Linked DNA regions of Homo sapiens. The protein of the gene in region 2 interacts with the protein of the main gene of each other region in a pairwise test. Each region holds a gene or a part of one and is shown on either strand. Other genes may lie near its edges. The genes, in order: LRP8, SYNJ2BP, ELOVL7 and THEM5.

Region 1 (7,035 bases), on a different chromosome or scaffold from region 2:
TTCTCTACCCTGCTAGCGCTCTTCCCTAGGCCTAAGCAGGGTCTCTCTTTTCTCTTCAGTGACTGGGGGCCACACTCACCTATGGGCACGATGATCCCGATAACAGCGGCAGTGACTGTTGAGCCCATCTTACTGTCTTCATTTGCATCTGCAAAACACAAACATTTGCAGAATGATGCTCTATCACTGTGTGTCCAAGCCCCTACTGGCCTCAAGTGGTAAGAACTACCCAACTGCTGCTCATCCTCATTCTAAAATGATGATCCTGGCTGTTGCCTAATAATTCAGTCTTTCCAGATCCTATCACAACTCCTGTGAGGCAAGCAGGACAGAGGTTATCTCCATTTTACAGGCAAGGAAACTGAGTCTTAACTGAGGGGTTTCAGAAAAGTGGCAGAGCTGGGACTTGAACCCAGGACTCATGTCCCAAGTCCCATACCCTTTCCATAGCATCATGGTAGTAGGAAGCTGGGGGCTGTGCATGGCAAAGTGAGCACTTAGGTCTTTATGTTGCTGATGGACTAGGTCATTTGCCTTTTTCCATCAGTATCTGTTGCTTTGCCAGTATTGTTTTTTGTGAACTGTCTGTCCATCTGCATTATCAGATTATTTTTCATAAGTAATTGAAATGGGACATAGTATAGTGTAGAGGAATCAAAAGCGCAGACTTCTGTGTCAGACTTCTGGGTTCAAGTCCCAGCTCTACTACTCACTACCCATGTGACCTTGGGCAAATTATTATATATTATAAATACAGCACATGGTATTATACTTTTATATCTTTAAAATGGTGATATTACCTACCTCCTAGGGATATGGTAAGGATTAAATGAAATAATTTATCTAAAATGAATATAAAATGCTTGGCACAACTTTGCCTAGTTCTAAGAGGGTGGAGAGTGGGATGGGGTTGTTGAATAGGGTCTAAATTTTAAAAAGATATGTAAAAGCACATTTTAAACTGAAAAGTGCTTGGAAAATTTACTGTCTTTTTGAAAAACTATGCCATGCCATCTTTCTCACTCTTATAACCATCTTCATTGTAACATTTGTGAAGCACTTTATAGTTCAGAAAGCATTTTTCCCTTAGATCCTCCTGACAGCTCCCTGTGGTGTGAAAAGGAGCTATCATCTACACTTGCTGCAGGTGAGATGACTGTCCCGGCAATGGCCCAAGGCCCATCCTCTCTCAATGTGACTGTTTATCCATGTTACTCCAAGAGAATCTAACAGTTAAGGGGAGAAAAAGCTGCACTGCTTGCTTCCAGAGCTAACTGTGTCCTCCCTGCTGTCCTCCCTGCTCTGGGCCACAGCGAACACTGGACAGTGATATTAAAACCTAGAGCATGAGGAAGCCAGTGAGGAGAAGCTGGTGAGAGGCTCTGCCCTCAGATGAGAGGAACTGGAATTCACACATGCTCCATCTGCCTCTGCAAACTTCGGAGTAAGTGCTCCACTCCAAAAAGCCAGCTTCTGCTGGCAAATAGGACCAGTTAGGAAGATGTTGCCAAGCAGCTTGGTTTCTGGGCTGTCCATGTAGGGGAAAAAATTAAAAAGATAGTTTATCCTTTTAAATGAACTCCCTCTGGCAGGTAACTCAATTAAAAAGGTATTTGCTGATTAATGAGATAGAACATTTCTAGCAGTGACAATTACTGCTCCCAATGATTTAATAAGTGGTGAACTTAATTATTTTCATCCCAGGGTTGGAAAGAGGTATAAGGAGACCATGGTTGTAGATATTACTATCTGGGGACCTGCTGTGAACTGAGATCAGAGCTTTCCAAACACAAGGGACACCTCCTCATATACACATCAGAACTTTGTGAAACATAGACACACACACCCTCGCAGAGTCAGCAACGGCTGTGTGCGTGAGCACCTCCAGTTATACCGGTTACACCTTTGTCTATCATGGCAATCTTGTGAAGCAGGTTGTGGAAGGGTGGTTATTTCCACTTTGTAAGAGAAGCAACTGAGGCTCACAGGGTCTCAGCTTCCTACAAGACCCTCTGTAAGGTAGGGGCACCTATGAGTCCTAAATCGCAGGCTGGTACTCTACCTCCCTCTCAGATATGCAGTAACCTCCTCAAAGATATGCAGTATTCAGCTCTGGTAGGTTCTGTCTTATCACATACCCCCTTCCTGGCTTCCCTAGGAGCCCTCCCATGTCATGAAAGAATGCAGAACTCATTTCCTTACAGTGCTGGGAGTGGTTGCTGGTTGCAGGGCTTAGGGTAGACGGGCTGATGCTGGGAGCCCTGGGGACACTAACTGAGCTTGGGACTGCAGCTGTCAGGCTTGGTGTCTCTGTGCTGTGGTTCTGGTAGGTGGATCTGTGGACGGTGGTCCCGGGGGCTCTTGTGGTGGCAGGTACTGTCCTCGTCATGGTAGAAGCTAACGTCGTAGTTGAGGTAGATTGAGGTGCTGGAGGGGAAATACCATGGAGGTCACTTGGACAGATAATTTTGTTGCCTAAGGTATTGCCTCTGAGATATACTTAGGAACTTATCTTCATGGCGTAGCTCAAATGCCACTTCTGTGAAGCCTTTCCTAATCTCCCCAGTGGGCTATGATCTTTTCTTTAGCTGAATGCTAAGCACTTCACTTTGATTCAATAAAGATGAGTCATTAAAACATTGCTGTGGAATTAGTTGTAAGATCAGCAATAAAAAGACTGTAGGGAGGGGAAATCAGATAAATCTAGAAGGATTTTACACTCATATATTGTTATACCAATAGATTGAAATTCTTATTCCACTTTAAACAATTGAACCTGTAAATCATTAATAATGCAGTAGACTTAGGCTCAAATGAAAGGCCTTGGCTATACATCAAGATTAGGACATGAATCTGTGTATGCGGTTGAAGTATTAACTATTAGTCCCAATTATATTGCAAAAGGGCTGCTGTGTAGTGTTTGTTAAGTTCTAGGTGAGAAACAGGCAAATATATAGTTATCTGCATGTACCTGAAGCCACGGCGATTAAGGGTTCTTAACTTGAGGTTTTTAAAGCGTTCCAGAAACTCCCTGAAACTGAATTTAAAATGTTTTATGTATATGTGCATTTTTTCCTTGGGAGTGAGAAAAAGCTTTGGAAGGATCCTGGGGGCATGAGCATTCAAGGAAGGTAAAAAAGAGAAACCCCCAAAAGGCAACAAGTAACCAGGGAAGATGGAAGAAAACCAGCAGCATACTGTGTCCCAGAAGCCAAGGGAAGATTTCAGCAGGGTAGGGTCTGACACTGCCAGGGGCCATCCCTCCTGGAAGGTCTGCTTACCTCGGTAGCACCTCTTCATGTCTGGACCCAGCCACATTGTGTCAGGACAGGCACATGTGTACTTGGGAGAGTGGCTGGAGATCTGAGGAGCAGGAAGGCACAGGTATTCACAGCCTCCATTAGGCTGGACACTCAGCTCACAGGCATCTGGAGCTAATGGCAGAGAGGGAGACAGCTGGGGCACAGACAGGACATGCCAGGTCTTCCTGCCTCCTGAGGATGAGGCTTCTCCCACCTGGCTTGCTCAAAAAGCTTGCCCTATACTTTTTTTTTCACATTTTTTTTCTTTTTCTTTCTTTTTTTATCCCCCAAAGCTTTTGGGATACACGTTTTTTGTTACATGGATGAATTATATAGTGGTGAATTCTGGTACTTTAGCGCACCTGTAACCCAAGTGTAGTGTACATTGTACCTAATGTGTAATTTTTTTTTTTTTAAATCTCTAGCCCCGCTATTACCTTCTCCATTTTTAGTCTCTAAAGTCCATTATATGCCCCTGTGTACTCATAGCTTAGCTATACTCTGTATGCCCCTGTGTACTCATAGCTTAGCTCCTGCTTATAAGTGAGAGCATATAGTTTTTGGTTTTCCACTACTATCATACTTTACTTAGAATAATGGCTTCCAGCTCCATCCAAGTTGCTGCAAAATACATTATTTTGTTCCTTTTTATGGCTGAGTAGTATTCCAAGGTGTATATATGCCACACTTTCTTTATTCACTCATTAGTTGATGGACACTTAGGTTGGTTCCACATCTCTGCAATTGTGAAGCCCTTCTACTTTTTCAATTTTTTTTATGTTTTATGTTTTGAGACAGGGTCTCACTCTGTTGCCTAGACTAAGTGCAGCAGTGCAATCATAGCTCACTGCAGCCTCAAACTCCTGGGCTTAAGAAATCCTCCCACCTCGGCCTCCCGAGTAGCTGGAACTATAGGCGCATGCCACCATACAAGGGTCATTTTTATAGTTTTTGTAGTGATAGAGTCTTGCCTTCTTGCCCAGGCTGGTCCCAAACTCCTGGGCTCAAGTGATCCTCCTGCGTTGGCCTCCCAAAGTGCTGGAATTGCAGGTATAAGCCACCATGCCTGGCCTCCCTACTACTTTTATTGGGTACTTTCCAGCACCATACCTAGTGTTTTATCCCTACACTCTCATTTAATCCTTGCAACAATTCTGAGAGGTGGGGACGTTACATCCCAGACTGACAAATAAAGACACCTAGGCTCAAAGAGAACAAATTCGTCAAACCTATACTCTAGGAATTTTTTTTTTTTTTAAGAGGTAGGGGTCTTGCTCTGTCGCCCAGGCTGGAGTGCAGTAATGCAATCATAGCCCACTGCTGCCTGGAGCTCCTGTGCTCAAGGGATCCTCCTGCCTCAGCCTCTCAGTGTTGGGATTACAGGCATGAGCCACCATGTCTGGACTAGAGATAGAACTTAAATTGAGGTCGGCTGGGCTCCAAAGCCCATAAGCCCGCGGTTTTTATTTTTCCCTGTGCCACATACTATGTCTCTCATTTAAATTTCTAGGTCTAGAATCAGGCACCAATCTTAGCTCCTTACACTCCCTTGCTCTCCCTCTTTCACCCTGGCAGCCAACACTTCAGTTACAGTTAGAATTAATGTATCCTAGTGATAGAGGAGGGGACAACCTAGTAGTAGGATTCCTAGATTCTATTCCCAACCAATAAGCTGACTTATTATATGGCCCTCGGATACATTAGCTTATACTACTGCAGAATGGCTACAAATAGCAAGTTAGATGCAGTGTGTCATGGTGAAAGCAGCTGTGGAACCAGATAGACCTGGGTTTAGGTTTCAGTTCTGCCACCTGCTAACATTATTTTACCTCTCTGAGCTTCCGTTTCCTCAACTGTTAGAAGAGTAATACCCACACTTTGTAGGATTGGCAAAAACAGGACAGTTATGTATTCATTTATACCCAGCCTTATTTCACAAAGAACTTGAGGTAAAATGAGACAAAATATATGATGAAAAAGTACTCTACCAACAAGAGGGATTGTTGTTATTATTCCTGGGGTTGCTGAGTTGTGACCTGAATGTGAACACAGCCTGCCTGGTGAAAGGAGAGGACACAGTGACACAGTCAGGGGACCTGGGACCTAGGACCAGAGACAGCTCACCTCTTGGCTGCTTCAGCTCATGGAAGATGACAATGTCATGTGGGTTGTTGAGGTTCTCAGCCAGGATGGAGATTTCCAGGCCATTGAGCCGATTTGCACTGAAAATGGCCTCGTTCTCCAGGTCTGTCCAGAACACCTTGTCCTGTGGGGTATAGATGCAGAGGATGGGAGGCCTGGAGTGTAAATCCATGACCTCAGTCTGAGGGGTTGGCCCCAAACCATAGTCACAAGAACTTCCCTGAAATCTCCCCTGATCTGTCCTGTCTATGGATTCACGGTGGGGCTCTCAGCCTCTAATCTGTGATGCACGTCTCCTTGTTCCCTTCTATCTTAGAGGATTATTCAGTGATTCTGTGCTTTGAACTGACAGCCACAACATTACTCATTCATGCTGAACTAAGCCTGCTTGCTAGAGCCCAGCAGAAACCCAAGGTTAAATCTCTATAGCATTATCATTACTGGGGCCTGGGACCAAGATTGGAAGGAATGTGTGAGCTATGAGGGTTATGCCTTGCTGGGCTTCCTGTAGCCTCTGGGTATCCACACGAGTCCACATGGTTAGTCCATATAAGCCTAGATGTGCATCTGTCAGCAAATCCACACGTACAGGTACAACTGTGCATCCTCATACACAGATCTAAACACATACCCAAATGTTCATCCACACACAAAAAGCTACATTTGCCCCTAAATATGCAGTCTATATACATCTTGGTATATGTATGTACACACATAAGCACCAGCACTTAGAGGAATGCACACTTTTATTCTGATGCATTTATATTTACCCATGCACATACACATACTTTACATGTACATGCCATGTATATAAACAAGCACAAACACTTGTGTACCAACACACCTGTCCTTTAAAGCAGGGGCTGGACTTAGAGGTGGAGCTTTGCCCACAACTTCAGAGCAGTGCTGAGTAACTTTGCTGCAAGCAAATCCTGCCAATGCCCACCACAGACCATCATCCCTTTGCTTTCCCTCCCCTTGGTGGTGGAGTTAGTTTTCGGGAAGAGGTGAAGGTGTGAGACCTTGGTTGGTTCTGGCTTCTTCATTCCCGGAGAAGAAAAGTCATTAGGGTCAGGGCACAGGAGGGTCTTCGCTCCTCACTTTGCTGGGAGCTTCTTGAGACTAGGATAGTGTCTGATTCACTTCTATGACCCCAGGGTCTGGCAGAGGTCAATAAAAGTGTGCAGAATTGAACAGCATCTCTCAGGCCATTTCCTCCAGTAAATGATTCTAAGGATATGTATGTTCCTTCTTCCTTTCCTCCCTTTACTGGGTGCCTTTTGTATATGGGTTACAGTGCTGGGTGCTGAGGGCACAGAGAGGAAACATACATGCCTAGCAGCTCACCTGTGAGAAGTGCTCTGGGAGAGGGGTCTTGGGAAGAGAGCGTGGGAAAGGCTGCCAGGTGGAGAGTGGGCTGCAGAGCCTTTGTGTGCAGGCAGCTCACAGATTGTTTACAAACAAATCAGTTGGTTTCCCTGTTCCTGTTTTCATTTGAACAAGTCTCAGGGACTCATCCTATTTGAACAAGCATTTTCTAGGCTTCAGCTTCCTAGTGGGCCCTTGCCTCTCCTTACAGGACTCACCTCAA
Region 2 (7,035 bases):
ATTTGTTTAAGTTCCTTGTAGATTCTGGATATTAGCCCTTTGTCAGATGGATAGATTGCAAAAATTTTCTCCCATTTTGTAGGTTACCTGTCCACTCTGATGATAGTTTCTTTTGCTGAGCAAAAGCTCTTTAATTGATCCCATTTGTCAATTTTGGCTTTTGTGGCAATTGCTTTTGGGATATGTGGTCACCCTACTTATGCAAGATTTTTCTGGGCCATAGCCAATGATTAGCAAGATACGTATTGAATAGCCTTTCCCTTTCTGGTGGTTTCCAACTGACATCTGTTTCAATTGGTTGGTCCATATGCTGGATGATTGCCGCAGAGTTTAGATATCACACTTGCTAGAAACTACTCTTAAGGGGGATTTCTAGGTCACATGCCATAGACGTACTTAATAAGTTTGAGTTCCTGTTTATAGATGGGTGGAATTTTAAAATCTGTCTTCCCATTTTTTAGGAGATTTTGCATTTCTACTGTATATTTATTCATTCTTTCTCTGTCAAACTATCTAGTTTGGAGCTTTAGCAGCCATTAGTTTATTGACAACTACTCCTAGCGCCTTATCCCAATAGAGCAACTACTATGTAGTTTATGAAGATTTTTTTTCGTATTTTATGTTATTGGCCCCTAACACTTACCCATTGATGTAGACAGGGCAGAATTTATAATTCTTATTTTTGTAGAAAAGGAAGCTGAGGATCAGAGGTAAACTGACTTGCTTCAGTCCACATATCTGGTAAGTTATAAACTTAGAACCAAGTCTTCTGACTTTGATTTGCTTCTACAATATCTAAAAGGGACAGGGAAAAGGATAAATTTGGGTTTGTGGTTAAAATAGGAACTGTCCAGGTTAGCTTTATATCTTCCTCAGAGCATAACGTAATGCCTAACACATAGTAAATGTTGATTTGCTTCTGCAATATCTTAAAGGGACAGGAAAAAGGAAAAACTCCAGTTTGTGATCAAAGCAGGGAGTGTGCAGTTTAACTTTATGTCTTCCTCAGATGATAACACAACATCTTACACATAAGATTCAATCAGTAATTTTTACTGAGCAAGTGAACTGGGGATTATGTAGGTATCCGTACAGCCCAGGTTCAGTTGGTCATGCCACTACTTAATGCTGTGGTGACTCTTTTATTGCAGCAATGCTTTGGCTTATAGATACACCCAGTTCTGTAAATATTCTGGCTGAACAAAGGGCTTCAGGTCAGTCCAGGAGTTCTCATGTTAAATAGTTTGGTTCATTTACAACAGAAGTAGCAACGGGTTATAAATGTACCTATATAATATGACTTCGATGGGGTGTGTAGTAGACGGCTCTTTTTTGTTTATGGTAAATCTCGGTAAAATTTCTTCTACTCTTCCTTTTTTTTCTACAGTTAGCTTTGAATAACCAGTAGCAAAGTCCTTTCTGTTGCTAACTACTACATTGCATTCAGCTGCTTAACATTTGCTTCCTGTTCCCAAGATCACCAGAGGCAACTGTAGCATTTGATGAGGGTGTTGGATTTCATCAAAAGATTTTTCTACATAGTTTGTTCCAGCTTGGGAGAGGTGGGTTGGCCTTGGCCCCCTTGTTCAAAGCTGTCACAGTTTTGAAGTCATTTCAAAACCTTCGATAATCTTGTTCCATCTGCTTTTCCACCTTATCTTACATTTCTGTACCTTCTCCAATACTTCCTACCTTCTATGATACAAATTGAGGGTGCTCTAAGAAAATCATTTAGTAAGTTAAGCTACTATTTTTAATACCCAGCCCTTCAAGGAAGTTAAAATAGCATCTTCCAGAAGTAGCACCTTCTTATTTATTTTTTTAGAGAATAGGGTCTTGCTATGTTGCCCAGCCAGGTCACAAACTCCAGAAGTAGCACTTTCTATTATGTATATTATTTTAGAGAATAAATTCTTTCTATTATCTAGCTGCAGAGATTTTATGCACAAGGTATGCTTTTTATGTATTTTATTTTATTTTTGAGATGGGGGTCTCACTCTGTCACCCTGGCTGGAGTGCAGTGACACAATCTTGGCTCACTGCAACCTCTGCCTCCCAGGGTCAAATGATCCTCCTACCTCAGCCTCCCAATGTTGGTCATGTGCCACCACGCGTGTCTAATTTTTTGTATTTTTGGTAGAGACGGGGTTTCACCACGTTGCCCAGGCTGGTCTCGAACTCCTGAGCTCAAGTGATCCACCCACCTTGGCCTCCCAAAGTGCTGGGATTATAGGCGTGAGCCACCATGCCTGGCTAAGGTATGCTTTTTAACTTAAATGTTTCCTGTTGTGTCTTTGTTTGGTCATGTTTTTCTTTAAATTACAAATTGATTTGCTAGTGCTTATGTTAATACTGTGAGCTTCAGGTGTAAGCTTTTCTCCCACCAATGGGGAGAACTTTCAGAAAGCCCGCATATGTCTCTTTTTTATTTTTTTTTTTGAGATGGAGTCTTGCTCTGTCGCCCAGGCTGGAGTGCAGTGATGCAATCTCAGCTCACTGCAAACTCCACCTCCCGGGTTCACGCCATTCTCCTGCCTCAGCCTCCCGAGTAGCTGGGACTACAGGTGCCTGCCACCATGCCCAGGTGATTTTTTGTATTTTTAGTAGAGACAGGGTTTCACTGTGTTAGCCAAGATGGTCTCGATCTCCTGACCTTGTGATCCACCTGCCTTGGCCTCCCAAAGTGCTGGGATTACAGTCGTGAGCCACCGCGCCCGGCCCCCCGCATATGTCTCTTTAAGTATCTTTTCTATTGAGAACAGTGTAGGCTGGTGATTATGGTTATTCCTTCCAATTGCACCGCTAGATTTTTGGTTTGTTTCCAAACTATCTCCTTTGTCTTACACTGTGCCCCTGAATTCTACCAGTAGCTGACATTAAGAAAGCCCTAGAGAAGTTCCTTTTTCCTTTTTATTTTTTTATGCATAGGTAAAATCCTTTCCTAACAACGGTTTCTGTACAGTAAAATCCTTTCCAGCACTTAGTCATTGGTCCATAGAAATAGCACTTTGGTACTCAGTTTTCTTTCCTTCTCTTTTTTCTTTCTTTTAATATTTTGTTTTACTGTGGTAGGAACACTTAACGTGAGATCTACTCCGAACAGATTTTTCAGTGTATGATATAGTATTATCTGTAGGCACAATGTTGTACAGCAGATCTCTAGAACTTAATTCATCTTGCATAACTAAAATTATATGCATTTAAAATAGTTAAACTCATAAAAACAAATATTAGAATGGTGGTTTCCAAGGACTTAGGGAAGAGGAACTGGGGAGTTGCTAATCAACGAGTAGTCAGTTTTTTCTACAGTGAATAAAAGTTGTCAATTACTATGCCCAAGTATAGATTGAGTAGCCCAAATCCAAAAATCTGAAATTTGAAATGCTTCCAACTCCAAAATTTTTTAAGGGCCAACATGACGTTCAAAGGAAATGCTCATTGAAGCATTGCAGATTTCAGATTTTTGGATTAGGGATATTCAACTGGTAAGTTTAATTCAAATATTCCAAAATCCCCCAAATTCAAAATTCAAAACACATTTGGTCCTAAGCATTTTGGATAAGGGATACTCAACCTATATATGGTTGTACTTGAAGTAGCGAAGGAAGGGAGAGTAAATTTGGTGATTTAGTCCTACCATGAAATAGCAGTTACCTTTCTGGTTCTGAGGTTTCTCTGCCAATACCTACACCACTGCCTCCACCACCAAAATGGAAAAAAAAAAAAAAAAAAAGAAACTCTCAAGAGATTTTTCTAAAGCACTATCATACATAAATTCTCCAGAAGCTTGGGAGAAGGAAAGTGTGGAAGGGAAGGTATGGTTAGAAATCTCTCACACTAAATTAGGAACAGTTCATTTGATAATTGGTAAAAATGCATAGCTTCTTTTGATGAACACAGCTAACCCTGCTGTAGTAATATCAGGAATGTCAGGAATTGGGTCCTTTGAATACCATCAACAGGATCAAAACTAAATGTGAGTAGAAGAACTTACATCTAGGCTGGGCATGGTGGCTCACACCTGTAATCCTAGAACTTTGGGAGGCCAAGGCAATAGTGATTGCTTGAGGCCAGGAGCTCATAACCAGCCTGGGCAACTGAGCTATGAACTCCTGAGTAGCTGGGATTACAGGCGCCCACCACTATGCCCACTAGCAAGACTCTGAAAAAAAAAAAAAAAGAAAAAGAAGAACGAACTTAGAGTAATCACCATTATTCTTTAAGTTCTATATAGATCTTTCTTTATATATTGAACAAAACAGGTGGATCACTGTGTTTATATTTTCAGTCGTGCCTCATTTGAGTGAGCAACTCAATACTCTTGATATGGCTGACCTTGTTCATGACCATTCACCAGCTCCATCACAGGCTGACTCGCCAGCATCTCCTCTCCATCAGCCTTTCCTCCCCAGTAGGCTTTCCCTCCCTTTCTCTTCATCTTCTCTAATCTCTTTCTTTCTTCTTCACCCCCATCTTTTTACTCCTCCATGATTTTCTCAGGGCTGGGCTTCAACATCGTCGGTGGGACAGATCAGCAGTATGTCTCCAACGACAGTGGCATCTACGTCAGCCGCATCAAAGAAAATGGGGCTGCGGCCCTGGATGGGCGGCTCCAGGAGGGTGATAAGATCCTTTCGGTGAGAATGGGCTTCGGCCTCCTTCACTGTCCTTTGCTCCCTAAGCCCTAGGTCCTACCCCTCCCTATCCCTTTTCCTTGAAAAGATTTGGATCTGGAAATATACAGGTTGTAGAGTTGAATGGGAACAACTTTGATCAGTCATTCTTTCCAACCCTATCATTGAGCATGGAGGGCAACATTATGCTCACCTGATAGATGAGAATGTGAAGCCCAGAATGTGAAGTTACTTGTTCAAAAAGCACAAGGCAGGAAGCAGCGAGGGACTCATATGGGGAAAAGAGATTTAAAATCCACAAATTTTGTCTTTCATCCATTACTTTATCACCTCCTTTTGTTGATTAAAACACTAATGTGTATCTTCCTTTGGGGGAATGTCAGCCCTTATAATTGGATTTAACATCACAAAACAGAAAGAAGGAAGGTTGGAGTTAAGTGTCCTTTTCAGACTCAGAGCCCTTTTTCACCCATTATTAACATGAAAATTTGGAATGCAGTTGATTTGGGTACCTGTCCGCTGTGTTCCCATTTCATCCTGCTAATGTCTCTACGAAGACATACTACATGGTAATTATTAATCTTACTATTTTCCAGAATATTTCCTCAAGGGCAGTGAAAAGATCCTTTTTTTTTTTTTTTTGAGATAGATTCTTGCTCTGTCACCCAGGCTGGAGTGCAGGGTCGTAATCTTGGCTCACCGCAACCTCTGCCTCCCGGGTTCAAGCGATTCTCCTGCCTCAGCCTCCTGAGTAGTTGGGACTACAGGCCCCTGCCACTACGCCCAGCTAATTTTTTATATTTTTAGTATAGACAGGGTTTCACCATGTTGGCTAGGCTGGTCTCGAACTCCTGACCTCATGATTCGCCCACCTCAGCCTCCCAAAGTGCTGGGATTACAGGCGTGAGCCACCGGGCCCGGCCTAAGATCTTTTTTTAACCTTTTGAATCATAGCACAGTGCTTAATAATGTTTAAGAAATGAACAAGTTAAGAAATTCAGGCAAACCTAAAAAGGTTGACTGATAAATATGGGCCCACAGACCTCAGGTCTTAAAATAAATTAGAACAAGCATACAGTCAAAACTATTAAAATGCAAAATATAACTCTGGCCCTATTGTTCATTTCTCTACCTTACCATGGGCCACAGTAATCCTATGATACTATCAGTTTGCTGGGGGATAAGGGAGTATAGTTGGAGATAATTATTCTGTAGAATTTCTTTTTTTATTAATCTTCAGGACTAGTGAAAAATGGCCAGCTTATTACTTGTATGGAAACAGTGCAGATGATTGGTATAAAGAATGGAAAAATGCTGAGGGGGTGAGATATTATCTAGAATATTCTTGGGAGAGCTGGCTTCAAAGGGCTAGACTTAAATAAAAGGAAATTGAAATAGGATAGGGCTTCGGAGCCCTATCCTCTCCAGATGGGCCATAAGCCCATGGTCCGAAGAGGAGAAAACTATTCCCTGTTTTCTTTTAGAACTGAATAGGGCAAGATGGCCACGTTGGGAAAACGTTGAAATAAATGAATGAAGTACAGACAGGAGAAGTCTTGATTGGCAGAATTAAGTATTGGTCTCAGATACATGATTTTGAACCTACCTCTATAATGAGTTAGCTTCATCCCTTAAAAATTTTTTGCTATATAGTTTCATTTGAATTTTCCCTTTCACATTACTTCTCATGCAGTTCAGGTGATTAGTGATTAAAGGTCATATGTGTGAAATCTCTTGCTCTTCTTAGTTGTCAGCTTATTGAACACCTCTCTGCCATGAAGCCCATTTGGTAGCAGAACCTGAAGGCAGAGATACAAAGGAAAAGAGAGAGAGAACATCCACCTTTTCTTCATTTGGCATCTGAGTATTTGAGTGATCAGGCTCAGCAGTATGGTTCTGAATGCCTCTTCAGGAAGACTGTGACTCCACTTAGTCCCCCAAAAAGAAAGAAAATCAGAACAAGTAGCTATTAGAGCCACCTAAATTAGCTCAAGAATGTCTAAGCATGTGTCCTCGCTGATCCATAATATAAATATAGTATCAAGCACTGCAGTATTTCAGTCCTTCTCATTGACTATTCTGCCTCTCTTCAGTCCATTAAGCTTCTCCTAGACCCTGTTTATTAATCAGTGAGATGGAGACAGTGATAATATACCTGTCTTCTCAAAAGGATAGTGAAAAGTTTAGAAGCAGATTATTTCCTTTAGCTCCCAAGGAAAGACATTCATCCAATATGAATCAACTTGGCAGTGGTACTGTAAGGAATGCTGAGAGTGGGTTGTTAAAATAAAGGTGTAGCATTTAGTTAGAATCTATGCAGCTTAATATTTTGACACATAAATTACATTATCCTCAGAACACTGGAACCTGGGCTCTGTGGATGAAGAATAGTATAGGAGTT
Region 3 (7,035 bases), on a different chromosome or scaffold from region 2:
CATTCTCCTGCCTCAGCCTCCCAAGTAGCTGGGATTACAGGTGCCCGCCACCACACCTGGCTAATTTTGTTTTCGTATTTTTAGTAGAGACGGGGTTTCACCGTGTTAGCCAGGATGGTCTCCATCTCCTGACCTTGTGATCCGCCCGCCTCGGCCTCCCAAAGTGCTGGGATTACAGGCGTGAGCCACTGCGCCCGACCGGTTCACATTATTAAAATAAACTTAAATGTTATATAGATGTTATTAATGAAAGCCCAATTTAAAATAAGAAGCATGAGCCAGGCAGAGTAGCTTACACCTGTAATCCCAGCTACTTGGGAGGCTGAGATGGGAGGAATGTTTGATGCCAGAAATTTGAGATCAGCTTGGGCAACATGGTGAGATCCTGTCTCTCAAAAAATGATATAAAATAAGAAGTATGAGTTGATTATATACCATTAGTATGGAATGCTAAGTGAAGGTTCTGACTACTTACTACACTATAGCGTAAACTATTACAGTCAGACTAACAGGAGCAGGAATTCTGACTAGTTTTGGTTAGTTGATTTTTAAAAATTTATTTATAGCAAAGAATGAAAAATTTATTTAGATACTATAAACACTTACTTTTTAAAAAAATATATAAATAGGCATTAATTCTCCAATTTTCCAAAGTAGTCCCAAGGGCTGGGCACAGTGGCTCACACCTGTAATTCCAGCACTTTGGGAGGCCAAGGCGGGCAGATCACTTGAGCTCAGGAGTTCAAGACGAGCTTGGGCAACACAGAAAAACCCTGTCTCTACCAAAATACAAAAATTAGCCGGGCGTGGTGGCACACACCCGTAGTCCCAGTTACACGGGAGACTGAAGTGGGAGGATCAATTGAGCCCGGGAGGTGGAGGTTGCAGCGAGCTGAGAGCAAGCCACTGCACTCCAGCCTGGGTGACACAGTGAGATCCCATCTTGAAAAAAAAAAAAAAAAAAGACAGAGTAGTCCCAAGACTGTACTTGAGGAAGAGCTCCTCACCAATATTTTTCTGCTATAAACCATACCTAGAACTTAATCTACAATTTCCAGTTTTAACTTTCTAAGTGAATTAAAAACAAAGCAAAACAAAATAAAACAACTACACACACTTTTAAGGCAAGCTCAGGATATTTTTCAAGTTTTTACAATTTCTGTTTTTATTTTTGAATTTTTTTTTTAGACAGGGTCTCACTCTGTCATCGAGGCTGAAGTACAGTGGTGCAATCACAGCTCACTACAGCCTCGACCTCCTGGACTTAAGGGATCTTCCCACTTCAGCCTCTGGAGTAGCTAGGACTACAGACGCATGCCACCACACCCAGTTATTTTTTAAATTTTTTGTAGAGATGGATGTCTCACTATGTTGCCCAGGCTCGTCTTCAACTCCTGTCCTCAAGTGATCCTCCCACTTAGGCTTCTCAAAGTGGTGGGATTACAGGCGTGAGCCACTGCACCCAGCCATCTTTCTGATTTTTTTAGTTTTCCTGACCCCTTAGTGACTCACTTTTATGGAACCTTTCCAAAGAATTCAACATTCCTTTCACAATAACAATATTCTTTTTTTGCACTTACGTTTCATAAGTTCACGCATATCTAAATTATCTATCACAATAACAAATATAACTGGCACTAACATGTTTGCAATAAATACAATAAATTGTTGTTAAGCCAATAACCCAGCAGTTGGAGAAGGAAGAAGACTACTAGAAGCCACTGTTCATCATGCCTGGGCACCACCCCATGTGCTTATAGGGAAATGAAGAGCATAGGCTCATTGGTCAACTGTTAGATGTCAACGGTATTGTATTTGAATCAGGATGAACCATATGCAAACTGCCAACATCCAACTGTTTATTCACCTACAGAAAGGGCAATTGCATATGTTCAACCATATATATATATACACATTTTATTTAAAAACACTGACTATATTTTATGTTAAATATCACATCCACTACCATTTTTTTCCTTTAGAAGAATGAATAGTGGTTCTCACAGCTTGATTTAAAAAATTCCATTCCACATTGGCTCAGGAACTCACCCTAAGCTACTGAATAATTCGTCATTGGACTCTGGATTCCTAGGAATGCCATTTCTATCTTCTTTCTTTCTTCAAGTTAAAGTCACACCTGTTAGTCACACACGAAGAAGAGGATGAAGGATGAAGCTATCAGCTGTGCTTTCTAGCTAACTGAATGATAAGCAGCAAAGGGATTAAAATGTGGGTCAACATTGTTCGTTGGCTGGTTTATTTCTGAGACATAAATCTTTCTGTCCTACAGGATGCAACACAGCACTGTCTGCCTGAAGAAGGTACAAAAAGACAGGTAAGACTCTGAGGGGCAGAGAAGCCCCTGAACAGACTTAAAATAAGTCACCCTTAAGTAATAAGTGCCCTTTACTTTTGTTCTGCCCTTGTTAGAGCATTTAATTAAAATAAACACACAAACAAATCACAAGCGTGCTATTAGGACAAAACCCAAAAATTTGGGACAGAAAGAAGGAGAAGAGTTGGGGGATGGGGCTGTATTTAGATTAAGGGCTGCTAGTGAAACTCTCTTTGTCTAGATCTCACGTTTCTACCATTGACACTAAAAAATCTAAATTGGGTTTATTTTTATGGTTGCCCTTACGCCCTCACAAAACTATTGTAAGATATCAGAGTCCTAGGGCCTCCTATATTCTCAAAAATATCAACCCAGAGAGTTAGTATTCAGAGTGGGGAGAGCCTAAACCTTGTAATTACACCTAGGTTTAAATCCTGGCTGCATACTTCTACCAGTGTAGCCTGAGCACCCTTTCTGCTTTTTTCACCTTTCTGTACCTGTGCATATGATGAGCCAGACTTTGCTGGCTTCAAAGGATTCATTAGAAAATACAAGTAAAGAGACTCACTGCAGGCTGGGTGCAGTGTCTCACGCCTGTAATCCCAGCACTTTGGGAGGCTGAGGCGGGCAGATCACCTGAGGTCGGGAGTCGAGACCAGCCTGGCCACCACGGTGAAACCCCGTCTCTACTAAAAATACAAAAATTAGCCGGGCAGGCGTGGTAGGGCGGGGGGGTGGGGGGGGAGTGGGGGGTGGGGGTGGCGCTTGTCAGGAGGCTGAACCAGGAGAATTGCTTGAACCTGGGAGGCAGAGGTTGCAGTGAGCCAAGATCACAACATTGCACTTCAAACTGGGTGACACAGTGAGACTCCACCTCAAAAAAAAGAGAGATTCATTGCAACTATTACTTATGCCTAAAAGATGACAAACCTTTCACCCCATAATTTTCAATAAGATGTTTTAAATGTAAATGCAGCCTTGAGTATCCTGTAAGGACAGAGGTACAGATGATGCCCATGAAGTTGATTTTCTGTTTCAAAATTCACATGCAAGCTAAGCATAATCAAGATATCTAATGTAGGCTGGGCGCAGTGGCTCATGCCTGTAATCCCAGCACTTTAGGAGGCCAAGGCAGGTGCATCACCTGAGGTCGGGAGTTTGAGACCAGCCTGACCTAACATGGACAAACCCCGTCTCTACTAAAAATACAAAATTAGCCAGGCATGATGGTGCATGCCTGTAATCCCAGCTACTCGGGAGGCTGAGGCAGGAGAATTGCTTGAACACGGGAGGTTGCAGTAAGCCAAGAGCATGCCATTGCACTCCAGCCTGGGCAACAAGAGCAAAACTCTGTCTCAAAAAAAAGATATCTAATGTAAACAAGGAAGGTAGCTGTCCTTTCCAGATCAGATAGGGAAATGAGATAAAGGCCTGATGGGAGGAGGAGAGGTTTCATAAAGGTGAAATGGCAAGCGCCAGAGAGATTCAAATCTTAACACATCCTTTTCCTTCTTACAGGCTTCCCAGGATTCCCCACTGACATTATGATAAAATCCAAAACCTTTATGGGGTCAAAAAATGCTCTCAGTAAGCCTGGCCTCTGCATGCCTAGGCAACTTCAACTCACACCCTCTTCCTAGTTACTTTAAAGTATCTGCATCTCCCTGATCGCACCTGCACTCTCTCCCTAGATTCTATTTCCCACTCCTCGTCCCATTTCTCAGCTGCCCTAACTCGCACTCTTCCTTCTTTCCTCTCAGAAGGACTTCCTGTCTGCCCGCCTCTGCCTTGCCTCCCCAGGACCTGGTCTGTGTATATCACAGCACAGTTTATCATACTGAACTGTAATTTTGTAACTTACATTTACTTGTCTATAACTCACATGGACCTGGACTGGCTTTAGCAATCTGCCAGCCCCTTTGCCTGACACAAAGCTAACACTCAAATGTTTGTTGAGTGTGCAGCTTCTGAAACTCCCCAGTTTTATCTAGGTTTGGCTCTTTTACCCTACATTAGAAAGTCCAAGAAGCAGGGCTGCTGGTGTTCATGGCTTAAGTAGCTGCTTATCCAGATTGATTAAGATTTGTCTTTAACATGGGGAATTTGTAAGCTATGTGGAAACTTATCTCATTTGAATAATAGTCTGTTTAAAAATATTTATGAGTCAGGTGTGGTGGCTCCTGCCTGTAATCCCAGCACTTTGGGAGGCTGAGGAGGGCAGATCACCTGAGGTCAGGAATTCAAGAGCAGCCTGGCCAACATAGTGAAACCCCGTCTCTACTAAAAATATAAAAATTAGCCATCTTGGTGGTGAGTGTCTGTAATCCCAGCTACTCAGGAGGCTGAGGCTGGAGAATCACTTGAACCCAGGAGGCAGAGGTTGCAGTGAGCAGAGATAGCGCCATTGCACTCCAGCCCAGGCGACAAGAACAAAACAGTGTCAAAAAAAAATATATATATATATATATTTATGATGGGCCAGGCATGATGGCTCACGCCTGTAAGCCCAGCACTTTGGGAGGCTGAGGTGAGCAGATCATCACCTGAGTTCAGGTGTTCGAGAACAGACTGGCCAACATGGTGAAACCCCATCTCTACCAAAAATAAATAAATAAATAATTAGCTGGGCATGGTGGCATGAGCCTGTAGTCCCAGCTACTCAGGAAGCTGAGGCAGGAGAATCACCGAACCTGGGAGGCAGAGGTTGCAGTGAGGCAAGATCGCACAACTTTATTGGTCGACAGAGCAAGATTCCGTCTCAGAAAAAAAAAGAAAGGAAAAGAAATTATGATGGTATGCCAACTTCTATCATTTACAAAAAGAGTGATTTCACTTGCCAATGTAATAATATGTACTTTTAGAAATCAATTAGGAATAATGGAAATTTCAAATTTTTTCAAAGACCAGTGATATAAAATGCCCAACTGGTATTAGTTTTCAACTTTTTGCAACTGTGCATGGTCAAAACTGGATGAGTCACTGAAACACATGTAAGACATATTTCTAAAAGTGTGTTTATGGCATGCTTCTTTCCATGCTACGTGATGTATCTTCTTGAAATTCTGGCTATTCTCAGTTTAACATGCTACCATTTACCATGGCTCCGGAATTCCGTGTTTGGTAAATAGCAACCTTCCAGGCCATGTGCAATGGCTCACATCTGTAATCCTAGCACTTTGGAAGGCTGAGGCAGGAGAATCATTTCAGCCCAGGAGTTCAAGACCAATGTGGGCAACATAGTGAGACTCTGTCTCTATAAAAGATACAAAAAATTAGCCAGGCATGGTGACATGTGTCTGTAGTCTCAGCTACTGGGGACTCTGAAGTGGGAGGATTGCTTGAGTCTGGGGATTGAGGCTGCGGAAAGCCATGACTGTGCCACTGCACTCCCGCCTGGGTGACAGAGAGAGACCCTGTCTCGGGGGGAGAAAAGAGCATCCTTCTGTATCTTAAAACTGATAAGCACAAGTGGCACATCATGGAGAATAAACAAATCTCAAAAATTAGAAAAAATCCTACTTTCTCAATTTGCCTAGAAATTATTTGCAGATAGGCGCTTTCTTTTATGCACATTTGAAAACCCTATGGCAGGTTGAATTGTGTGCCCCAAAGAGGATATGTTGAAATCCTAACCCCCAATACCTCACAGTGTGCTATTATTTGGACATTGAATTTTTGCAGATGTTAAAATGAGGTCATACTGGAGTGGGATGGGCCCTAAATCCAATATGACTGGTGTGTTTATAAGATGGTTATGTGAAGACACAGACACAAAGGGAAAATGCATATGAAGACAGAAGCAGAGATTAGAGTGATGCCAGCACAAGGAATATCAGAGATTGCTGCTGTCACCAGAACCTAGGAGAAGCATGGAACAAATTCTCCCTCAGAGCTTTCAGAAGGGTTCAACACTGCTGACACCCTAATTTTAGACTTGTAGCCTCCAGAACTGTGAGACAATAAATTGCTGTTTTTTCAAGCTACCCAGTTGGTGGTACTTTGTTATGGCAGCCTGAGGAAACTAATACAACATTTAATAATACTGTTCATGTTTAATTGAATTGCTGTTACTTCCTAGAGAGAGAAGTTAGGTAAAATGCATTGATCCTCTTTTTAAAATCGCTTTTAGAAATCTGACAGCATGTATTGAGAACCATAAAAATGACCATACTTGCTGACGAAGTAATTCTACTTCTGGAACAGTATCATTAGGAAATGAGTCCCAACTTGTAAAATGATACAACTGCAAAGATAAGTATTACTATAACTTAGGTTGTTTATAATTTGTTGCTAATATACTTGTCCAACAATAGAGTTTTAGTTAAGTAAATCACATTATAATTACTAGAATACAAACAATATGAGTTCTGAAAATTACATAAGATGAAAAATGCTTACTAGGTATTATATGGAAAACACAGAATACTAAAAAAAATTACTTTCCTTTTTTTTTTTTTTTTTTTTTAAGACAGAGTCTCCTTTGTTGCCCAGGCTGGAGTGCAGTGGCATGATCTCAGCTCACTGCAACCTCTGCCTCCTGGGTTCAAGCGATTCTCCTGCCTCAGCCTCCCAAGTAGCTGGGACTACAGGCATGTGCCAACACACCCAGCTAACTTTTGTATTTTTAGTAGAGATGGGGTTTCACCATTTTGGCCAGGCTGGTCTCAAACTCCTGACCTAAGGTGATCCACCTGCCTCAG
Region 4 (4,147 bases), on a different chromosome or scaffold from region 2:
TGCTGGCTGTGGGACTCTGAGCAAGCAATTGACCCCTGGTCTTTAGTCTTCTTACCTGAAACCTGGGGCAATAATATCTACCTGCCAGGGTGACCAGAGATATGATATTATGGGCCTATGTGTGCGTGCTCATGAACCGTAAAGCACAGTACAGCTATCAGACACTTCTACCCAAAACCCATGTTCTATCCATGGGGAAATGGAGATGCACACAGCTAAAGTAACTTGCCCGAGGCAGCACCAGCAATCAAAGTCAGATCCAGGACTCTAATCTGGGAGGTGAGATTCCAAGTCCACTGTTCTCTCCACTCTACTCTGCTGCCTCCAGACTTGGAACAGACCTCAGGAGGAATGCACACTGGGCATAAATGTGTCCACAAGGGAAATCAGGCTGACCGTGGGTCACCAAGTTCATGGTTGTCCCCCTTCTCTTCCATCCGGATGCCTGCTCCAGACAGTCACTGAAGGCTGGAGGTGGTGCTGGAGCTCCTGCAAGGGAGAGACAAGAGAGGGCAGGAGTGGCTTTAGGGTCCTGAAGCCTGAGAGGGGCTTAACTGGGGTTAAATAGAATCCAGAGTGCTAAATAGATGTCAGGGCCTCCAGAGGCTGTGGATGCCAACTGCAGCCCTCAGTCACCTTGGCCATCCCAAAGGAGTCCTCCACAGGGACACTGCTCCACACACTAGGCTGTGCAGATACTAGTGAATTGCTCAGAGCCCTGCCCAGGCCATGGACTCCCTCCTTTCTGAAGCATGGCTGACTTTTATTTAGGGGCTGATGGAAGTGAGGCCAAAGAGGCAGAGGAGGACCATCCAACACTAAGGCCAGTCAGTGGATTGAGGGGTTGGGGGTCTAGAGAAGAGATTAGTATCCACCAGGCCCCTAGACCATGGGGAGTGGGAAGGAGGAGTTACTCGTTGGCCAAGAGCTACTCTGTAGATCCACATACTGGCCAATGGGTCCCCAGGCTGGCCAGTGAGGACAAGGAGGAGAGAGTTGGTTTCGAGTTCTTTGACACCAACTCTTTTCACTCTCTTTCAAGCAATTTGGGAGGCAGACAGGGAAGTGCCTAAGAAGTGTGTAAATTATGTTTGCAAACATTTGTTTATTTAATCTGCTGAGATCAGAATTGTGAAATTCATGGTGGAAAAACTAAGGCTCAGAAAGGTTTAGCAATTTGCTCAAGATCAAACATGTAGTGAGCTGTGGGACAAGGAGTCCAACTGGGTGGATAGAGACTAAAGAAGCAGGGAGGGAAGGGTCTGGAAAAGCCACTGGTCACAGCAGCAGGAGGGTAACCCATGGCAGTACAGTGTGGACAGCTGATCTGGCTCTGTGGAGAATGGGCTGTGCTTTTGAAAATCAGGAACTCAAATCTGCTTGGTGTTATTTGAATTCTAAAATGGGTGCCTATTTTCCCAAATTAGCCAACCATGAAGTAGCTGACATAAAGCTTGCAAAAGCAAGAATGAACATTTTACGCTTTTTTTTTTTTTTTTAATTTTGAGACAGTCTTGATCTGTTGCCCAGGCTGGAATGCAGTGGCACAATCTCAGCTCACTGCAACCTCCACCCACCGGGTTCAATCGATTCTCATGTCTCAGCCTCTCGAGTAGCTGAGTTACAGGCGCTTGCCACCACACCCGTCTAATTTTTATATTTTTTAGTAGAGACGGAGTTTCACCATACTGGCCAAGCTGGTCTCGAACTCCTGACATCAAGTGATCTGCCCACCTCAGCCTCCCAAAGTGCTGGGATTACAGGCGTGAGCCACTGCGACTGGCCATTCTATGCATTCTAAATAAAGCAAATGTCTGCGGCATTTGAGCATTTCAGCTCAATTTCAGCATTGAGCCTGCTGAAGCAGGCGCTCTGCTTTCTGTGGCAACGCTGCTCAGAAGTGTGTCATGCCAGCCCTTGATAGGTCATAAGTTATGTTTCACATTTACTTATCTTGAGATGTGGGCCCCGCACTGGCTGTAGTGACTGGTAAGGTGAGAAACAGCCCAGGGTTGTGCCTCAAAGACTGAGTCAAAAAGTTCAGGGACTTTTTCATTTCCTGTATATGCCCATCCTTCCAAATTATGGCAATTATTGCCAGCAATTAGGTAATGAACCAGAAAAATGTTTTCTATTAACTTTATCAGAAAAAAACAATTTCCCTGATGAAATAAAATGTTGTATCATTGGCTGCAAACGCATGCTGAAGCAAAACAGAAAAGCTCAGTTGATTTTGACGGGTTTGATCAGATGGGATGCAGCTGTTTCCTTCTTTCCTATTTGGCTGCCCTGAGGCTGAACGTCTGTGTTTGGAAGGGTCTAGGGAAAGGGAAAGGTAGGATCACCACAGGAGGGAGGGAAGGCCCATTGAGGGGGTCTGCCCAGCAGCCCCAGCCCAGGCCTTGCTCCTCACCTTACCCCACCCCCAGGTTTGCTCACGGCGGGTCCCTGGCAGCCATGATGGACGAGACCTTTTCTAAAACTGCCTTCCTGGCTGGAGAGGGGCTGTTCACACTAAGTCTCAACATCAGGTTCAAAAAGTAAGTATGGGCCCCTGGGGCATTGGCCAAAGTCACAGACCTTTTCATCCCTGGAAGTGGCCATCCTCGGCAGCTGGGGTGTAGGAGCCCTGCCTGCCACTCTCCTTCCCCAGCCCACTCCCAAGCAATTCCTCTAGTCCCTGGCCAGGACACAGCCTCTGCTGTCCAACTTTGGGAGCTGACAAAAAGGCCCTGAGCCCAGGGCCACTTCTGAGTCCTCGAGGCCGGGAGGGATGAAGAGAGGGAAGAGGACACAGAGAGTGAAGGGATGGGGAACCGGGTTCACATGAGAGATGGGCTAAGCTGCCTCGTCTCCCAGCTTGATCCCCGTGGACTCTCTGGTTGTAATGGACGTAGAACTGGACAAGATTGAGGACCAGAAGCTTTACATGTCCTGCATCGCCCACAGCAGAGACCAGCAGACAGTTTATGCCAAGTCCTCAGGTAAAGGAGCCCCCAGCCCAGCCCCAGGCCCCGTCCCACCACCACCCACCCCCAGAACAAACAGGAGGAAGAAAAGATGCCAATGATTCATCCCAAGCTGCGGTCCAGCTTCTTTAGGGGTGGGATAGGGCACCTACTAGGGACACAGATGAAGCAAGGGAGAGCAGAACTAGGATTTTTTTTTCTATATATGAGTTATCCAACCTGTAACGAAAGGACAGGACCCAGGTAATGGGTAATTTGCAGCCAAATGCTCAGAGTGTCCATCAAGCTCCAGCCATCTCAGTGCAGCTCTTGCAGCTCAACTCACCCTTCTCTTGCAGGTGTTTTCCTTCAGCTGCAGTTGGAAGAAGAGTCTCCCCAGTAACAGTCACTGTGCCTGCAGGAGAGCCACTGCCTCCCCTGCCTGCCTCCTGCCTCCTGCCTCCCCTGCCTGCCTCCTGCCTCCTGCCTCCCCTGCCTGCCTCCTGCCTCCCCTGCCTGCCTCCTGCCTCCTGCCTCCCCTGCCTGCCTCCTGCCTCCTGCCTCCCCTGCCTGCCTGGGACCCATCAAAGAGCAGGGAGGGGTCCTCAAGCAGCAATTGGTGAGGCGAGGGAAAGGACCCTTTTCTCTGAGTAAATAAAGTCTCACAGTCCCATTCTCGGCCCAGGGCCTTTCTGTGGTTGGAAATCAAAATCCTTCCAGGGCATCTCACATACCCACCTTCCCATTCAGCACCGACTGAAAAGATTTACTGAGTACCCGCCAGGTGTCAGGCACTGTGTGAGGCACCAGGCACCCAGAAGTGAAAGACAGGGCCCCGGTCTCAAGATGCACAATGCGGGAGCCAGGTGCCAAGTCAGAGTGCCCTATCACGCTCCTCCCACACCCACCCTGGCTTCCATCATGAGTGCAGTGTCATCTCAGCGGGAGGAAGGGCTAATTTTACTCTACAAAAGCAATCAGAAAACATCTTCTAGAAGAAGCTCTTCCTGAACTGTCTCAAAAGTTAAGTGGTGTTCATTAGGCAGGCAGGGGAGAGGAGGATATCCCAGGCAGAAGGGAAGTAAGAAGTAAGACAAAGGTGCAGAGGTGTGAAAGTGTACAGGGACTTTGGAGAAGAGCAAGGTGTTGAGGAGGGCAGGCGTTTAGGGAAAGAGAAGGTGGGCAGGAGCAAACCACAG

What was found.
Region 1: the proteins of SYNJ2BP (region 2) and LRP8 interact in a two-hybrid assay, tested with the Homo sapiens proteins (one study listed by BioGRID).
Region 3: the proteins of SYNJ2BP (region 2) and ELOVL7 interact in binary tests that used the Homo sapiens proteins (3 or more experiments, as listed by UniProt).
Region 4: the proteins of SYNJ2BP (region 2) and THEM5 interact in binary tests that used the Homo sapiens proteins (3 or more experiments, as listed by UniProt).

What each region holds. Positions count from the first base shown.
Region 1 is NC_000001.11:53,255,038-53,262,072, forward strand, and holds part of LRP8 (low-density lipoprotein receptor-related protein 8 isoform 1 precursor), read right to left. Parts: coding exon 7,031-7,035; intron 5,569-7,030; coding exon 5,427-5,568; intron 3,435-5,426; coding exon 3,282-3,434; intron 2,428-3,281; coding exon 2,203-2,427; intron 1,445-2,202; exon of another isoform or gene 1,091-1,444; intron 219-1,090; exon of another isoform or gene 149-218; coding exon 80-148; exon of another isoform or gene 60-79; intron 1-59. UniProt on the Homo sapiens protein: Cell surface receptor for Reelin (RELN) and apolipoprotein E (apoE)-containing ligands. LRP8 participates in transmitting the extracellular Reelin signal to intracellular signaling processes, by binding to DAB1 on its cytoplasmic tail.
Region 2 is NC_000014.9:70,386,072-70,393,106, reverse strand, and holds part of SYNJ2BP (synaptojanin-2-binding protein), read left to right. Parts: intron 1-4,500; coding exon 4,501-4,637; intron 4,638-7,035. Other genes in the region: SYNJ2BP-COX16 protein, read left to right, coding at 4,501-4,637. UniProt on the Homo sapiens protein: Regulates endocytosis of activin type 2 receptor kinases through the Ral/RALBP1-dependent pathway and may be involved in suppression of activin-induced signal transduction.
Region 3 is NC_000005.10:60,834,245-60,841,279, forward strand, and holds part of ELOVL7 (very long chain fatty acid elongase 7), read right to left. Parts: intron 1-7,035. UniProt on the Homo sapiens protein: Catalyzes the first and rate-limiting reaction of the four reactions that constitute the long-chain fatty acids elongation cycle.
Region 4 is NC_000001.11:151,846,575-151,850,721, reverse strand, and holds the end of THEM5 (acyl-coenzyme A thioesterase THEM5), read left to right. Parts: exon of another isoform or gene 1-489; intron 490-2,429; coding exon 2,430-2,540; intron 2,541-2,859; coding exon 2,860-2,984; intron 2,985-3,307; coding exon 3,308-3,351; coding exon of another isoform or gene 3,352-3,602; 3' UTR 3,603-3,621; downstream 3,622-4,147. UniProt on the Homo sapiens protein: Has acyl-CoA thioesterase activity towards long-chain (C16 and C18) fatty acyl-CoA substrates, with a preference for linoleoyl-CoA and other unsaturated long-chain fatty acid-CoA esters.